3 linked regions of the Homo sapiens genome follow. The protein of the gene in region 3 purifies or fractionates together with the protein of the main gene of each other region. This does not show direct contact. Each region holds a gene or a part of one and is shown on either strand. Other genes may lie near its edges.

What was found. Proteins that work in one complex are often made in the same cells at the same time.
Region 1: the proteins of PLCZ1 (region 3) and SERPINA12 purify together in Homo sapiens (affinity purification with mass spectrometry; 3 studies listed by BioGRID and IntAct, with this or other methods). This does not show direct contact.
Region 2: the proteins of PLCZ1 (region 3) and SEMG1 purify together in Homo sapiens (affinity purification with mass spectrometry; 3 studies listed by BioGRID and IntAct, with this or other methods). This does not show direct contact.

What each region holds. Positions count from the first base shown.
Region 1 is NC_000014.9:94,486,779-94,492,469, forward strand, and holds the end of SERPINA12 (serpin A12 precursor), read right to left. Parts: intron 2,990-5,691; coding exon 2,842-2,989; intron 717-2,841; coding exon 525-716; 3' UTR 501-524; downstream 1-500. UniProt on the Homo sapiens protein: Adipokine that modulates insulin action by specifically inhibiting its target protease KLK7 in white adipose tissues.
Region 2 is NC_000020.11:45,202,893-45,210,032, forward strand, and holds SEMG1 (semenogelin-1 preproprotein), read left to right. Parts: upstream 1-4,140; 5' UTR 4,141-4,161; coding exon 4,162-4,237; intron 4,238-4,481; coding exon 4,482-5,794; 3' UTR 5,795-5,838; intron 5,839-6,708; 3' UTR 6,709-6,876; downstream 6,877-7,140. UniProt on the Homo sapiens protein: Predominant protein in semen. It participates in the formation of a gel matrix entrapping the accessory gland secretions and ejaculated spermatozoa.
Region 3 is NC_000012.12:18,692,966-18,700,083, forward strand, and holds part of PLCZ1 (1-phosphatidylinositol 4,5-bisphosphate phosphodiesterase zeta-1), read right to left. Parts: intron 6,986-7,118; coding exon 6,829-6,985; intron 3,302-6,828; coding exon 3,185-3,301; intron 2,115-3,184; coding exon 1,945-2,114; intron 1-1,944. UniProt on the Homo sapiens protein: The production of the second messenger molecules diacylglycerol (DAG) and inositol 1,4,5-trisphosphate (IP3) is mediated by activated phosphatidylinositol-specific phospholipase C enzymes. In vitro, hydrolyzes PtdIns(4,5)P2 in a Ca(2+)-dependent manner.

The sequences.
Region 1 (5,691 bases), on a different chromosome or scaffold from region 3:
GGACCGACTTTGTTAAAGCACTGAACTAGCTTCCTTGGAGCCCCAAAGGGAGGGGCGGGACCTTCACTTCAGAAATAAGAAGACAGACTCAGAGAGGGTTTGTGGCTTTCCCAAAGATACCTCATTCCAGGATTTGAACCCCAGTCTCTCACTCGAGACCCCAGGTACTTGCTGTGGCCCATACCTTCCCCAAATTATCCACCAACAGCCAGTCAACCTGGGGCAGGGCTGTGGGGGAGAAACATTTGTTTACTAAATCACAGAGTCCCTCTGCCCGCTGGAGGGGAGAGGAGAATGCCACCAAGTGGGCGGGGGTGGGGCATTGCATCCCAGCATTTGAATGGGCAGGGAGGAAATGGGGCACAGGACTTCTAGAACTTGCAGTTTTGCTCATTCGGGCTGTCTAGGGAGGTGGTGACAGGGAGAGACTAAACTGAAATGTGCCTGTGACTTCCATCTCAGGAAGATGGAACATGTTCAACCCCAAGCCATGTTCGGGGTCTGTGGCAAGCAGGAATTCTCCTTTATTTTCCAATAGGGTTAACAATCTTTCCCAGGAAGAGCACGGAAGGTATTTTCTCGCTGTAAATCAGCAGCAGATAGGGTTTGTCTATCTTGACGACGAGTGGTGTCTCCATGGGCAGAGTCTGTGCTCCGGTGCCAGCGGCCCCTTCCGTACCCCTCTCATCCATCTTCAGCTCAGCCTTGTGCACAGCCTACGGAAGCCAAGGGCAAAGTCAAGGTCTGCCAAGCTCCTTGGCGACCACAGTGGGCCGGAGGCCCAGAGAGGATCAGAGAGGAAGACCACTTGGCCCAAGCCATCCAGCACAGCAGTAACTTGGTTTACTCCAGGGTTCCTGGCTCTTTCGCCATTAATGCTGGAGAATATTCGACAAGCAGATGCCGTGTGAAGGAAAAGATGGTGCAGGGGGAGCATCAGTTACGGGAGTCGGTGGGGGGAGAGATGGAGTGGGGTTTGCTTCTCTTTCTCATGGGTTACAGGGAAGCATCAACCATAGCCGTGGCAGAAAGGTCTACTGGGCTGTAGCTGGGTGAAAGTGAGGTGGTGGTACCCCCACCCTGAAGCCTCCAGCACCTCCTTTCATCCACCTGGTGGATGGTTAAGAGGGAGAAGGATTCTGGATTAGCTCTTTGAGATGACTTGCATCCCAAATCCACTCCAAAGGCATCAACGTCTGTAAACAGGTGATCAGTACTGGGAAACTAACGGGCATGTGTGAAATCCTGGCACATTTCTTGCTAGCCTACAAAATTCTCACAATTTTACTTGCAGAAAACAGGACAGTATCCTGTGTTACAATCACAGCTATCAGCAAACGTAACTACAGAAAGAAATGAGCCATTAAACTCAACAAGACCTTCAGAGCTGGTGTTAAATGTTTGTGGGAAGTCTGTGGCAGGAAAGCTCAAAAGTGAGAAAATTCTAGTAACTATGTTTCTTATGTCAACGTGAAAAATACAGTGGAATCTGTGCCATCTGATTCAGAGCAGCGGGCTCAGCTTGGCAAGCTGGATCCTTCCCAGACTGGCTTGAACCTCCCACTTTATCTCCACTAAGCACCCAATCCCCACCACCCACTACTCCATGATATCCAAAAACCCCCAGCCTTGGCCACACTGCTGCACCCATCCCCGCACCCATCTCTGCTTGTTGAAATCTTTCCCCTCCTTCAATGCCTTTTTAACCCCAAAGTAGGGTTGCCAGGTGAAATACAGGACATCCACTGAAATTTGAATTCAAGATAAACAATGAATATGTTTTAGTGTAAGTGTGTCCCGTGAAATATTCTGAACATACTGGCACTAAAAATATTATTCATCATTTATCTAAAATTCAAATTTAATTGGGTATCCTGTATGAAATCTGCTAAATCCGGTGACTCTACCTATATGGTGCTCTCTTCTTGCCCCAGACAGTCAGGTGCTCACCTTTGCCAGGGGCCACAGGCCCCTTTGCTTGGTCATCTCTTCCTATGCAGCATATGCTTATGCCAACTCATATGAAACATGTGGCCTTGGGCGCGGTGGCTCACGCCTGTAATCCCAGCACTTTGGGAGGCCAAGGTGGGTGGATGACCTGAGGTCAGGAGTTTGAGACCAGCCTGGCCAACATGGTGAAACCCTGTCTCTACTAAAAATACAAAAAAATTAGCCGGGCATGGTGGCGGGCGCCTGTAATCCCAGCTACTCGGGAGGCTGAGGCAGGAGAATTGCTTGAACCTGGGAGGTGGAGGTTGCAGTGAGCTGAGATCGCACCACTGTACTCCAGCCTGGGTGACAGTGCAAGACTCCTTCAAAAAACAAAATAAAAGAAAGAAAGGAAGGAAGGAAGGAAGAGAGAGAGAGAGAGAGAAAGAAAGAAAGAAAGAAAAAAAGAGAGAGAGAGACAGAGAAAGAAAAAGAAAGAAAGAGAGAAAGAGAGAGAGAAAGAGGAAAGAAAGAGAGAGAGAAAGAGAGAAAGAAAGAGAAAGAAAGAAAGAAAAGAAAGAAAGAAAGACGGATGTGGCCTTTGAGAGAGGGTCTGGGTTAGACCTAGACCAGTTCTAGGCCTGATAACTGTTCCAGGCCTTGATCAACGTTTGCTACATTGAATTGATTTCCAAAATAGCAGCAGTTTTAAAGACTGGAAGCATGAGGCTGGGGGAGGTTATGTGGTTTGCCCAGGATCACGGGGTTGGTAAGGGGCACAGCTGCATTCATGCCCGCCCCGACTGGTGGGTGGAGTCTCGGCTCTGACAGCCACTGTGACCCTGGCTCTGGCCCCGGCTGGGGGAAGGCCCCTGTGCTGCAGGGAGTGGAGTCCAGGCTAGGCAGGCTTACCTCGCCCACTTTCAGGCTGCGATGAGGGGCGATCTTGGTGAGATCACCATGTTCCTCAAAGATTTTGGAGACACCTATGTAGGAGAGAGTCTTCTTCAGGTCGAAGGTGCCCGTCATGTGGAGTCTGGGTACAGACACGTCTACGACCCTGGGGAATTGACACGACAAGGGTGAGTGGTCAAGTCCTGTTGTGTTGCAGGGCAAGCCTCAGGATACATGACCAATGAAACATGTGTCCTCCCAGCCCCAAAGGTCTCCAATCTCTCTCCATCCACAGAATGAGGAGGGGCTCCTTAACCCTGGGACCCTGGTTTCAAAACACCATAAGCTCTCTGAACCGTGTCCCTGCCTCCCAGCACACCTGCCCCAGAGCCCTCTACAGGGAGTGTTCTCAAGTCTCAAGTTCCCCCGTCTCAGAGCCCCTTCAGCCACAGTCACTGATGATGTCCACACTGTAGTCGCTGCCATGCCTGAGCCCTGAGCCCATCCTGACCCCAGAAGACCTGACACTGGAGGGAACAAGGCACCCAGAATCTGGAGGTAGACAGAACTGAGTTCAAATCCACTCTGCCTCTCATGAGCTCTGTGACCTTCCCTCTCTAAGTCACTTGTGTGAGAAGGAAAATGATCACCGTCGCTCCTGCGGGACACTAGGGGTGCTAAGGCAAATGCAGACAAGGCACTCAGCAGACAGTTGGTGCGTAGCAGGTGCCCATCCTCCTGCCCTCCAACTAGCAGCTTCACATCCTCTGTGGCTGAACCGCGATCAGCCTCCTGCCCGGAGCCTGGGGCCCAGGCTCTCCTGAGGTACCTGCAGACCCTGGATTCCCGTTCACCTGGCCTTGCACCCTATTTTCCCACCTACCCAAGGATCTCATTCCTGCCTATGTGTCCTCTCTCTCCTGCATCATCCTTAAACAGTGCCCCTTTGATCCTCCTCTGGAGGAGGCCTCATGCTAGAGTGACCCTATCCTCAAAAACTAACACCAAGAGATCTCTCTTGGCCCTGAATAGCCTCTCCAGCTTCCAGCTCATTTCTTTTCTTCCTTTTATAGCAGCTATCTCCACTCCCTCCCACAATTGCCTCAGTCCACTCCAGTCGGCTCTTTGACCTCAACTTTTTATGGAAGCAACTCTTTCCAGAGTCACCGTTGACAACCAGCCCCACGTCCCAGAGCCAGCTCTCAGTGAGCCGCACGTGATGGTAATCCCTTTCTCCAAGGTGAAGCATTCCAGGTCCACCCCTTGAGGCTTCTCCTCCTTCCCCACCACTCCTGCCCCTGTCGGGCTCCACCCCTCCCATCTCTACCGGTGACACTGCTGCTTCCAGGCTCAGACCTTGGTCCCCTTCTCTTTTCCACCTTCACTCCATCCCCATACATGTCATTCAGTCTCACAGCTTTGAATATCATCAACAGGCCCAACGACTCCCAAATTTACCTTTCCACTCATTCATTCACTCAACAAACATTTATTAAATCTCTACTGTATACCAGGTGCTGTTCTAGGTGCTGGAGATGCATCTATGAACAGAGCAGGCAAAGATCCCTGCCCCTGACTGTGTGTTCTAGCAGGGAAGACAGGTGATAGAATCAACACAACAAAAAGTACCACTTAAGCCTACATACATGTACTAGCGGTATGCAGAAGGCAGTAAGTGCTATGGAAAAAAATAAATAGATTGACTTGCAGGAATCGAGGATTGGTCCAAAGTTTGAGCAAACCTTGAGGCAGGCAAGAGAGTTAGACAAATTGGGGTTTTTTTTCCTGAATAAAATGGGGAGTCACTGTCGGGTTTTGAACAGAGGAGTGACATAGTCTTGCTTAGGATTTAAAAGGATCATTCTGTTGCCTCTGTTAAGAATATACTCTTGGTGGTGGTGGTGTGTGTAGTGGGGATGGGCAAAAATTGATGCTGGGAGACCATTTGGAAGCTAGTGTGGTAGTCACATGTTGGGAGCCACAGAGACGGCGGAAAGATACCAAATTCCAGATGTGGTTTGCTGTAGGCTAAAGGAGTTTCCTGACAGACTGAATGAGGCATTTGAGGGTGGTCAGGGTGACTCCAAGGTTTTTGGCTTGAGCAACTAAAAAGATGGAGTCACCACTGATTGAGATGGGCAGGCTTGGGGAGGTTCTCTGGGGACAGATCAGGAAGTCATTCTGGATGTGTTGACACTAAGCTCCAATTACACATCCTGGGGACATTCTGGGTAAACAGAAAGATCCACGACTCTGGAATTTGGGGGAGAACAGGGGCTGGGGATGGAAGCATGGCAGTCGTGGTAATAGAGATGGTGTTTAAAGCTCTTAGCCTGTGAGCTCACTCAGGGGTAAGTATAGACAGAAAAGAAGGCTGGGAACTGAGCCCTGAGACACTCACCTCTGAGACCTGGAGGAGGAGAGGGGTCTCCAGCAAAGGAGATTGAGGAGGGGAGAGGTGGGAGGTGATGTGAGAGTGGAGAGCTGGAAGCCAAATGAAGAGTGCCTTAAGGAGGTGGGGACAGAAACCAGCCGAAGAGCGAGGCCTGAGACTGACTGCACTCTGCAACACAGACACCCTTGGGACCCTGGGAAGGGAGCTTTCTGTGAGAAGTGGGTGCAGAAGCTGGACTGGAGTGGATTTAGGAGAGGATGAGAGGAACTAGGGGCTGTGAACAGAGGCAACTGCTTCATGGTATTCACCTGCAAAGGGGGAGTGACGAAATGGAGGAATAACTGGGGGAAAGCAGAGGTCAAGAGAAGCTTTTATGTTGGGAAAAATAATAGCATTGAGATTTCCTGCAGGCCAGCACAAGCCATACAGGCCTGCCTGCACAGAAGGCAGACACCTGCTTTGTCTTCTTGCAT
Region 2 (7,140 bases), on a different chromosome or scaffold from region 3:
AATACTACACAGTCATAAAAAATAAATAAAATCATGCATTTGCAGCAACATGGATGCAGTGGGAGGCCATTATCCTAAGTAGATTAATGCAGGAAGAGAAAACTATATACCACATGTTCTCAGTTATAGAGGGGAGCTAAATGTCAGATACTCATGAACATAAAGATGGAAATAATACACACTGAAGACTACTAGAGGAGAGAAGGAGGGAGGGAAGGGGACAAGGGTTGAAAAACTAAATGTTGGGTATTATAGTCAGTATCAGAATGACAGGAAAATTCATACCCCGAGCTTCAGCATCATGCAATATACCCAGGTAACAAATTTGCACACTTGGCCCCTGAATGTAAAATAACAGTTGAAAAAGAAAAAAAAGGTCTGATGTGAAGTGTATTGGAACTGTTTTGCATTTTATTTGCTTCTTTTCTTTTGCTGCTTCAGTATCATTTATTTGTCTTTGATCTTTCACAGTTTAATTATTATATGTCTAGTCTTTTTTGAATTGAATGTGATTGGTGACTGTTGACCATCCTGCACTTTGACTACATATATATATATATAATAGACACATACATATATATATAATATATATGTATATATGTATATGTATATATATGGGTGTATATATGTGTGTGTGTGTGTGTGTGTATATATATATATATATATATATATATATATATATATATGAACTCCTCAGATTTGGAAAGTTTTCTGTTATTACTTATTTAATAAGCTTTCTTTACTTTTCCATTTATCTTTCTCTAACTTCTCTTGAATGCCAGTAAATTGTCCCTTTGCTCACTTAATGCTATTCCATACATCTCATAAGTTTCCTTCATTCTATTCTTTTTTCTTTTTTCCTTTTCTGAGTATATATTGTCAAATAACCTGTATTCAAGCTCACAGATTATTCCTTCTGCTTGATCATTTCTGGTGTTAATGCACTCTATTGCACTTTTCACACTTTTCATTTTATTCATTGCATTCTTCAGCTCCTATATTAACATTAGATATTAAATGTTATCATTTTTACCCTTTGTTACATCTCTCTTTCTGGTCACTTATTGTTTTCATCATTTCATTTAATTATTTATCTGTATTTTATTAAAGTTCTTTGAGCTTCCTTAGAACAGCCATTTTAAATTCTCTTTCAGGCAGGTCATACATCTCCATGTCTTTGGGGCCAATCAATGGTATCTTATTTTGTTCATTTGGTACCTTATTTTGTTAATTTGGTGTCATCAGTTTTCCCCGATTGTTCTTGATCCTTGTGATTGTGCATTGATGTCTGCACATTGAAGAAGTAGGTACTTATTGAATTGCAGGTAGGTACTTGAATGCAGATATTGAATTTAAGGTAGGTACTTACTCCAGTTTGGCTTTGTCTGAGAATGTCCCTCAACTCTGTCCGGAAATTCTAGGCAGATCATCTGTTCTAGGTTTGTAAGCCTGTGACTGTTTCAGTCATTGCAGCACAAGGAGATGTCATAAACCCAGGACCACCATGGCCAGTTCTGCACCAGGCTGTAACCCATGGCTGCAGAGGCTGGCACAATGATGGAATGCATTCCCAACTCCTCCTCACTGATACCTGCCTACGTATGTTGGTTATTCATAATCCAAGGCTGCTGTAGTTGGCTGCCAGTGGTACAGGTAAGAACGCAAGTCTATCTCACAGGAACTATGTGTTCCTCTCTGCTGCTGGGGCAGGTCTTGCTGCTTAGGCCACAGGTATTCAAGCAGGGTCACTATGGGTGTCCTCCCAGTGCTGAATTTTACTATTATAGACTAGTATTTTGTTCCGTGAAAAAGTCCAAGCCTTACTTCATTCCCTTCCCCCCAAAAGAAAGTAGCTCTCTCTGCACTGTGCTGCCTGTGATTGGGTTAGGGGTGATACAGGAAACAAAATTGTCTTTCGTGCCCTCTTCAATGTGTATTTTTAATTATTATACTATAATCAGGTTCTGTAATATCTCATCTGGCCTGTTTAGCTTTTGAGAAACTATTATCATATGTGGATAATTATTAAATTCGACGTTTTGGAGGGTATAATCTCTGGGGAGTCCTACTCTACCAGGTTTTTCTGCCCATTCCCCAAAAATAACTATATTTGAATCTTTTCTAAGTTGTAAAGTGATTTCCCATAGAATTGAGCAAAATACATTTAAGTCCTCCTGTTTTCTTCTTTTCCTATGAGTATAAAACTTTCAGATTTTTGTGCCAATTTAGTGCACTTTAATATTTTTGCATTTTTTATTTGTCCAACAGGACAAATCATTTGATCACTTAATCTTTTCCCCCATCATAATTCCATATCTAAGATGTATGCATCACCATACCATTTTTATGCTTTCCAAATCACTGATTTCTGATTTCAACTTTATCAATACATTCCTTTATCATTTGGAAATGTTTTTTTCCACATTTCATTGAATTCAATTCTAATATGAATATAGTAATCACATGTTTTGCTTGGATTGCATTTTCCTGGTTTGTTTTTGCAAATATTGTGCCCTTTTGTTTTATCTGCATCTTTTGGACACTAGATGAGATGAAAGTTTTGTTCTTGATCCATAAGTAAGATTAATATTTCAGACTCTATTTTGTATCAGTAAGTTTGGAACAGAACAGTTTCTGGTATTTTCTTAAGGGAAGTGTGAGGAAGATTACAGTGGTTAGCAGACACAGTAATCAATTTTAGTTCAGAACAATATCACCTTACTCTGTTGGGGTTTCTGCAATAAGGAACTACTTACTGCCTTTGAGGCAAACAGATAAATTTGGTAAGATCTCAGAGTGGCTCATAGAGAAACCATGCAGCTCACATGATTTATGTTTGATAGCATAGCACTTTTTTTCTGTGGTTGGCCTTTCTCTTTTCCCCTTCCATAGAGCATTGCCTACAGGAAGGTTAAGATTCTAAGACAGAATAATTGAAAATAAGTTTTCAAGCTATCCTTTCCCCAGCACTACCCTCCAAGGTGTTCTGAATGTACACAGGGACACTGTTGGGATGCTTTCTTCTTCTCCTGTGGTCTGCTCATAACGAAGTCTTTATGACTCAAAGTAAAGAAAGTTTCTTCAGACTTTTCAGGATGTCATCACAATTGGAAAAATCTATGCTTCTACCAAAGGTGGGAATTTTAGCTTCATGTCCACTCACAATACATTATTCAATTCATTGATGGTGGCAAATATTTCTCACAGCCTGTTTGGGGATTCAGCTGTTTACTACTGAAGTAGAAACTTCTCTTAATTAAAAAGAAAATTCTGCTGTTTAGGTAGATTTCATGAAAAGAACCCAATCTAGAAACCAGCATTTTTACTTTTTTTCCAACAGTTGTTCCTATCACCATGAAAGCATATTAAAATTCTTTCATCCTTTGAAAACACATCTGGAACTTACCTCACCCTCCAGATACAGCCTCAGCTCTCACTCCACCATGAATTCAGACTTCCTGAGAAGGTTGCAGCTGGTCTCCATCCTTCAACTGACAACCCAATGCAATTGTATTCATCTCTCATTAAAGTTACTAGCAACAACTAAGAAAAACTTTGGATACATGTCAGTCTTTATTGTGTTGAACTTGACAGACATATTTGACATTGGAGTGCCCCATTTACTTGTTTAAAATTTCTTTCTTTGGATTCCATAACGTTTCATTATCTTCTATATCATTGGACTTCTATGATTGCTCATTCTTAGGTAAAATAGAACGTGTCTCAAGATCATTTTTAAAACAAAAGGAAGTATGGAGTTCTATCTAAAATAGAGTATTTAAATTATTGCATCATGAAGGGAAACTCACATTTAGAATATAAAGGCATTCTCAGAAACCAATTGCTTTTGTAGCCTGAAGCCAGTCTCTTTCCTACTTTTGTCTATAATTCTGTAAAATTAAAGTGATCTGGCATGATGATCTAAAAGGACTGATAAAAATTTGCTGGGGCTGCCAGAAGAAAGAAAATGCCTTTGACATTATGTTGCTGGGGACATTGACTTTGTCCCACACTCAGCAGGGGTGAGGAAGTTGGCATTTACTGATAAGCTAAGAAAAGTCAGTGCCTTTTGTAATTTAAGCTCCACCCATGGCACACTCACTCAAGGAAGATATAAATGACAAGGTCGGCTCAGCTCTCAGACAAGGTTTTCCAAGCAAGATGAAGCCCAACATCATCTTTGTACTTTCCCTGCTCCTCATCTTGGAGAAGCAAGCAGCTGTGATGGGACAAAAAGGTGAGTGGAGAGGGTAAGCCTTGGGGAAAGCTGCTCAGACAGCTAATAATCTAAGATTATTTGGGGTGCAAACAGTAACCTGTTTAGGCACAGATTCTTCTCTTTGAAGAGAATTGATTTTCTCCACCCAAAGCTTCAGCTTTTCTAGAAATATCAATAATTTGTTGGGGGAAAAGTGGGGGGTAAGAGTTGTAAGGGAGCTTTGGAGATAATGAATGCATACCTTCTTATTATCAATTACCAGGTGGATCAAAAGGCCGATTACCAAGTGAATTTTCCCAATTTCCACACGGACAAAAGGGCCAGCACTATTCTGGACAAAAAGGCAAGCAACAAACTGAATCCAAAGGCAGTTTTTCTATTCAATACACATATCATGTAGATGCCAATGATCATGACCAGTCCCGAAAAAGTCAGCAATATGATTTGAATGCCCTACATAAGACGACAAAATCACAACGACATCTAGGTGGAAGTCAACAACTGCTCCATAATAAACAAGAAGGCAGAGACCATGATAAATCAAAAGGTCATTTTCACAGGGTAGTTATACACCATAAAGGAGGCAAAGCTCATCGTGGGACACAAAATCCTTCTCAAGATCAGGGGAATAGCCCATCTGGAAAGGGAATATCCAGTCAATATTCAAACACAGAAGAAAGGCTGTGGGTTCATGGACTAAGTAAAGAACAAACTTCCGTCTCTGGTGCACAAAAAGGTAGAAAACAAGGCGGATCCCAAAGCAGTTATGTTCTCCAAACTGAAGAGCTAGTAGCTAACAAACAACAACGTGAGACTAAAAATTCTCATCAAAATAAAGGGCATTACCAAAATGTGGTTGAAGTGAGAGAGGAACATTCAAGTAAAGTACAAACCTCACTCTGTCCTGCGCACCAAGACAAACTCCAACATGGATCCAAAGACATTTTTTCTACCCAAGATGAGCTCCTAGTATATAACAAGAATCAACACCAGACAAAAAATCTCAATCAAGATCAACAGCATGGCCGAAAGGCAAATAAAATATCATACCAATCTTCAAGTACAGAAGAAAGACGACTCCACTATGGAGAAAATGGTGTGCAGAAAGATGTATCCCAAAGCAGTATTTATAGCCAAACTGAAGAGAAAGCACAGGGCAAGTCTCAAAAACAGATAACAATTCCCAGTCAAGAGCAAGAGCATAGCCAAAAGGCAAATAAAATATCATACCAATCTTCAAGTACGGAAGAAAGACGACTCCACTATGGAGAAAATGGTGTGCAGAAAGATGTATCCCAACGCAGTATTTATAGCCAAACTGAAAAGCTAGTAGCAGGCAAGTCTCAAATCCAGGCACCAAATCCTAAGCAAGAGCCATGGCATGGTGAAAATGCAAAAGGAGAGTCTGGCCAATCTACAAATAGAGAACAAGACCTACTCAGTCATGAACAAAAAGGCAGACACCAACATGGATCTCATGGGGGATTGGATATTGTAATTATAGAGCAGGAAGATGACAGTGATCGTCATTTGGCACAACATCTTAACAACGACCGAAACCCATTATTTACATAAACCTACCATTCGGTAACCATGTGAAAGGATGGACCAATATCAAGGTAATTTTTTTTTAGCAAATAGGGGAGATATCTCTCTCATTGTTTAGAATTGTTGGGGACTCTCCAGGACTTTTGTGGGATTGATAACCATTGTTCGCACCAATAGAAGTGCTGTATAACAAGTGGTAGGAAGATGAGCCTCCCCATTCCCTGGTGAGGAGAGGGTCTGGTAGTGGCACAGAAGGATGTTTGGCCTATCATGAGGTCCTAGAATTCCTATCCTTAATTGAATATTCTTCAATAATATTTTTTTGTATATGCCTACCTGCTAAAGGTTTTTTTGAACAGGTACTGACTACATATGCATATTTATAAGTTTATGGTATACTCTTGTCAGTTCTTATACTTTAGATTAGTAAACCTCAGTTTCTTTCCTATATAGTATAAAGGATTACAGCCATTAATGTTTTCTTTCTGCACACCAGTGAATGTTCTTGCATCCCTGTTAGGGTTCATCTATGCTCCTTCAGAGACCACAAGCCCAAAGACTATCAGTCCTCCCTCTCAGAATACAGGAAAGAGATATGTAGAAAGATCCTTGTTCATGTTGTGAAAGAGAAGATGGAAAGGGAGACACAAGAGATGGTGAGGGATCTCATGGGCCAATTGGGTGTTTACAACATCAGGAGAAGAAAACTGAAGCCCTGAGAGGGGTAATGGTGCTTCCCTGCCTCTTTGCAGTAAGTAACACTGCACTTGAAGAGAGGGCAAGCAGTAGAAACAGTGGCCCCAGCTGGCAACTAGTGGCCTGGTATCCTAGTAGTAGAGGGCTGGTACAGTTGGAGCTGAAGGGGACAGGGGGCCCAGCTACCATCCCCACCCTTCACTTTTTACTATACTCACATCACTGATTCTCTTCTTTCTCTCTAGGTGTCAGTTGACCTCAGTGAATTCTGTGATGTTTCTGAGATGCAGACTCCCGTGTAGTTTCAGATTCTTGGTCCATGGATGACACCACCTGCCCATGCTTCCTTGAATTAGGCTTTCCTAACCTGAAGCGCCTTCAAACTTCCAATAAAGAGATCATTTTCTGCTTCATCTGCTTTTGACTCCTGTTTTCTCTGGATTCCTAGTGGCTCAAGGGGTTGAGGGCATTTCTAATGTAAGTGGTTTTGAAAGAAAATAAAGGGATATTTTTGAAGCACTAGGGAGAATAGTAATCAAAGCCACATTTCAAGATATATTGATAGAAACCAACACTAAAAATAGGGTGCTGTTAGTCTACCAGTCACATGTCTACCACCTGAGGCCAACACTAAAGGCTTTCATGACCCTGGTACTAATAAGACCCCAGGAACTAAA
Region 3 (7,118 bases):
GAAGTTAGAGAGAATTAAAGACTATCTTCTCATGGAGGAAGAATTCATTAGAAATCAGGAACAAATGAAACCATTAGAAGAAAAGCAAGAAGGGAAAAGATCAAAAGTGGATGATCTGAGGGGGACCCCAATGTCAGTAGGAATCTTGGAAGAGATCATTGATGACAATCATGCCATCGTGTCTACATCTGTGGGCTCAGAACACTACATCAGCATTCTTTCATTTGCAGACAAGGATCTTCTGGAACCTGGCTGCTCGGTCAGGCTCAACCACAAGGTGCATACCATGATAGGGGTGCTGATGGATGACATGGATCCCCTGGTCACAGTGATGAAGGTGGAAAAGGCCCCCCAAGAGACCTATGCAGATACTGGGGGGTTGGACAACCAAATTCGGGAAATTAAGGAATCTGTGGAGCTTCCTCTCACCCATCCTGAATATTATGAAGAGATGGGTATAAAGCCTCCAAGGGGGTCATTCTCTGTGGTCCACCTGGCACAGGTAAAACCTTGTTAGCCAAAGCAGTAGCAAACCAAACCTCAGCCACTTTCTTGAGAGTGGTTGGCTCTGAACTTATTCAGAAGTACCTAGGTGATGGGCCCAAACTCGGACGGGAATTGTTTCGAGTTGCTGAAGAACGTGCACCGTCCATTGTGTTTATTGATGAAATTGACGCCATTGGGACAAAAAGATATGACTCCAATTCTGGTGGTGAGAGAGAAATTCAGCGAACAACGTTGGAACTGCTGAACCAGTTGGATGGATTTGATTCTAGGGTAGATGTGAAAGCTATCATGGCCACAAACCAAATAGAAACTTTGGATCCAGCGCTTATCAGACCAGGCCGCATTGGCAGGAAGATTGAGTTCCCCCTGCCTGATGAAAAGACGAAGAAGCCCATCTTTCAGATTCACACAAGCAGGATGACGCTGGCTGATGATGTAACCCTGCACGACTTGATCATGGCTAAAGATGACCTCTCTGGTGCTGACATCAAGGCAGTCTGTACAGAAGCTGGTCTGATGGCCTTAAGAGAACGTAGAATGAAAGTAACAAATGAAGACTTCAAAAAATCTAAAGAAAATGTTCTTTATAAGAAACAGGAAGACACCCCTGAGGGGCTGTATCTCTAGTGAACTACGGCTGCCATCAGGAAAATGGTTGGGTGATTTCTCAGTCCCTGAAAGGGATGAGGCTGGGGGAGTTGCCCAGAGGAATCTCTGTTCCCATTGATTTTTATTAGCAAAACATCCTGTGTCTTTTGGAGTACGATGTGTAAGTGCCCACTGGGTGGCCTGTCTGTTGGTCACTGTGCAGCAGTCTGCTTCCCAATAAAGCGCGCTCTTTCACAAACAAACAAACAAAAAAGCTCTCCCAACATGCAGAGGAAAAGGGAATATGTTAAAGTTGACACAAATTAACAGACACTGAAGACAGATACTGGAGAAAGACATATGGATAATTTTTCTTTTTAAGTAATCAAATGATATTCACAGACATATGGGGGGAAGAATCCTGACCTACAAAAGCCTAATTGTGGAGACTGAGGAAAAGAAAAGGGCTCCTAAAATTTCCAGGTAAAATTCATCAAAGGCGAGAAAAAGTAACATGCCCACAAAGTAATTAGTGGGCTGAACTGAGACCTGTATCTCACAATATTAAATGCCTAAATACAATGAAATCATATAGTAGAACTTTGAGAGGAGAAGGTTTTAGCCTCAATATGTCAATTCACAGGCAGATAATCATTCATGTAAAATTACAACAGGAAGACATTTTTCAGATATAGAAGGATGCTGGAATACTACCCACATATAGTACCTGAAAAGATTAACAGAAATTTAAAAGAAATTGAAGCAAATCAGTGGAATTCAAAATACTAATGTACACTATCTAGTTTATATAATAACCAAAAAATGTAAAAGAAAATTTATTAATCTTACCCTTATTGTAAGTGTAATTGGCATACCCTCTTTTATGTTACTTGGGTTAAAGTATGATTTACTCTCTCTTAAGAAATGTGGTTTCAAAATATATCCAGAACCACCATTATCCAAAAATTTCCCATTTTGCAGATCCATGGGCAGACCAGGGGTCTGGAAATTTAAAGCCACTGTAAGAAAGAAGTATTTTGACATTGTCAGGTAATAGAGAATACAAATAAAGGAACACAAACCACTTACTGAAATCTAATAATGGATTCTATGTCCCCAAATGTTCTATGAGCAAGTATCATTAGCCTAATAATTCATGATTTTTAAAACTCTTTCTCCTGCCATGTCTATATTAATGTATATTGATGAGTTGCAAAGTTTAATCTGTAAGTAAATTACTACACAGCTTTGAGTAAAGAAATCAAAATGGTATCCAGTACAGATTACAGAATAACAATGTTCATGTCAGGTAACACTTAAGAAATGTCAGAATAAAGAGTATCAGTGCATTGAATGCAAGAGGTAAAGACATCAACTATGTCATAAATTTTCAAGTCCATGAGATGCTGTTGTCACTTGAGGAGAAAGTGAGAAACAGGCAAAGCAATAATTGTCGTTACAATATGGAAGTACCTCAGTATAGCCTGGTAAATAGCCACTGTAGAGAGTACCACACTCCACCCTCCACCCAGCCCCAATATCCCCCCTCCTCACACCTACAGGCCTTGCCACAATCCAGTAGAAGGGTAACACCTGGTACTTTCTGATGGGTTAGTGCAGTGCTGTACTAGCTGTTCAATTTGGAATAAGAGTCTGGTGAGGGCAAATAACCAAGTTAGGCAATCTTATTCACTTTTCAAAACTATGAATGTAGAAGCTCATGTAAAGTATAAATGATAGAGGTCACTTGATTTGAAGAGGCCTTGAGCATACCTCAAGCAAAGGAATTTGATCTTCAATGTCCATTTGGGTTTCCTTGTTCCCTTCCTCCACTACACATGTCTCATATTAACTCCTCGTGAATTTAACCACCATTCCCCAAACCATCACTGAGATTTACCCCGCTTCAACCCAGATAGGAATGACTTCAACTCTTACAACACATGACCCACCATTAGTGCCTGACCCCAAAGCCCCCGGGCTAAAAAATCTTTTACAGAAAGCCCTTTTCACGAGTTTTTCATACATTCATAAAATGAATTCATTTTATGTTACTTCTGCAAACAACTCAATATCGTATATAACATACCCATTTGACAACCTATATTCCAAAATTCTTGGGGATTAAAATTAGAAGAGTCTGCTCTTGTTGCTTTGGGATATATTCTGGTAATGAACTTCCTGGTGTGAAAAATAAACTCATGGACTGAAAAAGAATAATTAAAACATTGTGAAAGAATTCAAATAAATTTAAAAAGCCACTATATATATATATATATATATATATATATCATATAATTCTATAATAGTTTCAACAATTTTGATATGTATTGTCTTGGCAAAAATTTGCAATTCATGAATATCAAAATAAATCCATGCCTTTATGTTTATAGTATAATTCACTATTATTTAGATGTTAGTGACAATTTTATCATAAAATGTATGTACACTGATCATTCAAGGAAAAAATTGATTAGATAATTTATATATTTTTTACACCCAAATTATTTCACTTTGTTGTAAGAATACATAAAACTCCAAAATATAATCCATTCATTTTTCAAAACAAAAGCAGCATTTTCCCTTATTATTTTTCCACTTTGATTTTCACAGTAGGGCAGAATCATATGGAAGTCACACAAAGCTATACGATTCCAGCTAAATTAATCCTACTGAACATTTCACAGGTTCTCAGGGTTGAAAGGCACCCCAAAGTTGTCCAGTTCGACTTCCAATCCCTTCACTCCAGCATCTTCCCCCAAAGTTTATTCAATCTGTGTTTACATGTCTCCATTGAAAAACTTTCAATGCTTTTAATTATTTCAAATGTCGTTCTTACTGGGATAATCTCTACGTATTTGTAGTATACACACAAACAGGAACAAACATACACACACAGTCTATTTTAGTTTCTGTACATATTCTTTGTGTTTCTTCTTGTCTATATAATATTTAAGTCACTTGAGATTCAAACTAACTTAAACCCTTTACCATTTGGCACCTTCTTCAAATTTTTGAACACAAATTTCATGCTTCTCCAAGGATTTTCTTTTTTCATTAAACAGATCCTGTTTCTGCAACCATTCCTGCTGATATAGTGACTCATCATGGGAGAATGGTTACTGCTTATGGCTCACTTCATTTGCTAAACCAACTAGAATAGAATCACCTCTCCCTTCATCCTAAATACTATTATTTAGGAAGCATTGTCAAATTAAAAATTACAGTTAATTTTATCAATATTTATTTTCAAAAGTTACACATTCCTTGAGAGAAAGTTTATTTTGAAACCATGTGTGTATAAATACAGCATAGGTGTCCAAGTATCATGCTCCCTTATCTAGTCCTAACAGATGTCTGTCCTTAGGCAAAACACATACTCTTCTGAGTCTTAATGTTTCTCATTTACAAAGTAATAAATGTGAATGATGACTAAGGTCTCATAACATAATATGATTTTGTTATTTCTGAGATTAACCTTTAGAAAATAAACATGTTTGTTATTACAAATACAGTTCATGTTTACTGTAAAATAGGAGGACATCAAAGAACAAATCAAACCATATGTCATCATTCAACTGATAACCACTGATAACTCCTTCACATATATCTTCCCATTCTTTTGTATGTGTATAATTTTTAGTTGAATGATAATGTTTGTTCCCTTTCACAAACCGTTATCTTTATTTACTATAATAATGTGAACATCATTTCATTTCAATAATATTCATCTACAACATTATTTTTTAATGATTTTCATTATGTTTATAATAATAATTGGCATCCTTGAAGTTAAACCTTTGCAGACATCATTGATTATTTACTATAACTTTTGGTGCAAGAAAAATGCTCTATGCCCCTTCAAAGAAATGGTAATGTTATACTTTGACTCTACTCAGAACTATCTAATTCCTTTCCAAAATTTTTGCAAGTATTTAATATGATGAGAGTAATACAATTATAATTAATTTATGCTGTGCCTACAGGTCCTGTCCTCATGAACAACATGAGGACCTGTCCTCATGAACAACATGAAGGAACAGAGACCAGTAAAGCATGTCATTCAAACTCTCTTAACCACACCTTACAGCAAGAAATACATTTTACAATCCAACTCACATGCACGATGCACAATTGCTTCATAAAACCATATTTATTATTACTGCTTGCAATACACTTTTCTTCTATTCTATTCTATTCTATTCTATTCTATTCTATTCTATTCTACTCCATTCCATTCCATTCCATCCCATTCCATTCTACTCTATACTACTCTATTCTATTCTATTATTTAACTGTAGTCCAGACCTACTGAATTGATTTTTGGTTACAACACACAGGTTAAAAAAGGAAAAGAGCCTTTAAAAAATCCAGGATCTCTCTAATAGATAGTTAGAGAATATGAACTAAAGTATACTTCAAAATCTTTGGGTATCTATGACCAGCCCAATAAGGTTAATCATTAAAGCTTTCAGAATCCGCATTCCCAAACAGCCAGCAGCTTTTCTCAAGTCAATTGCAGGTGCTGATTTTCCTTCTGTGGTATTTCTACACAAGATGGTAGATTGCATTTTTTTAACTTTTAATTTTTGTGGGTACATAGATAAATATATTTATGGAGTACACGAGATATTTTGACAAAGATATACAATGTCTAGTAACACATCAGGATAAGTGGTGTATCCATCACCCCAAGCATTTATCCTTTGTGTAACAAACAATCCAATTATACTCTTTTAGTTATTTTTAAATGTACAATAAACTATTGTTGACTGTAGTCACCTGTTGCACTATCAAATACTATGTCTTATTCATTCTAACTATAGTTTTGTATCCATTATTGTCCTTACTTCCCCCATACCCCTGCTACTAAAAAAAACTGCCATTTTTTGAGGATTAGCAGAGTCACCTGGCTCTTAAGTTAGTTGCTCATTCCCTTTTAAGTTTGGGACATTCCCCACATAATGAGTCTTCTTTCTATTCTCTTTCTCAGGCCCCGTTTTACCTTGGGCACTGCCAAACAGAATAACCACCTCAGTTTTAGAATTAGAGGCAGTGAAAGGAAGATGCAGAGACAGATGGCACCTCTACAGGTGTGCAGTGGGGCATGCACACTCTGCACAGCCATCTGGTAGTCCAGCCTGGGCGCCATTTCTTCCCCTTCCTTCACCATAGGCATAGAGCCTCCAAGTCTGATTAACCCTACCCTCTTCAATGCCTATTAAATCCACAAAGTTCATCCTGTCTCCACTCTCACTGCCAGAAATCTTTATTACCGCCTTCCTGCCTGCAATCTCACCCTTTGGCTGCTATCAGAGGTATCGTTTAGAAATAGAGTGGATCATGCCACTCCTGAGAGTTCAATCTTCTCCTGCGCACCTTCGCTTCCAGGACAAAGTTCAAGCCTTCTAATTCGGCTCTGCCTCCCTCTGCAGCCCTGTCACTGCTCTCCTATACAAGCTGCTCACCACAGCCCCCCAGCCCTCAACAAATGTGGCCACATCGGACATTCTCAATCAAAATGTCATGGCTTAGGAAAGTTAATTAATGGCTAAGTTCCATGAAATAAAACTTAATGAGACCTGAGGTATGTAACCCCATTCTAAATTATGTTAAATGTGTTGAAATTTTATGAGAATATACATTTTATAAATATCATTGAGCAATCTTAACACCCTAGCAGTGAATCTAACTCATTTAAACATTTCATCTATTTGAGTCACAAAAATTTACCTCGCAATTTTGAAAGTTTTCGGGCTTGTGTCTCCCCAATAGAATTATTTTCATTAAATTGCTGATATAATCTTGAATGTTGAAAGCTTTTGAATTTCTCAGCTTTCGTATAAATGACAAGATCAGATAAGGCCAGAGCAATTTTTAGCTTCCTGGTCTAAAAATAAAATGCAGTAATTTTACATTTTTATGCTAATCATTGGGAAAAAAAATTTTTTCTAGTAAAGAAAATACACTTTCAAACAAATGATTTTCATCTTTTCATAAGATTATCTCCTCAAACACCATTT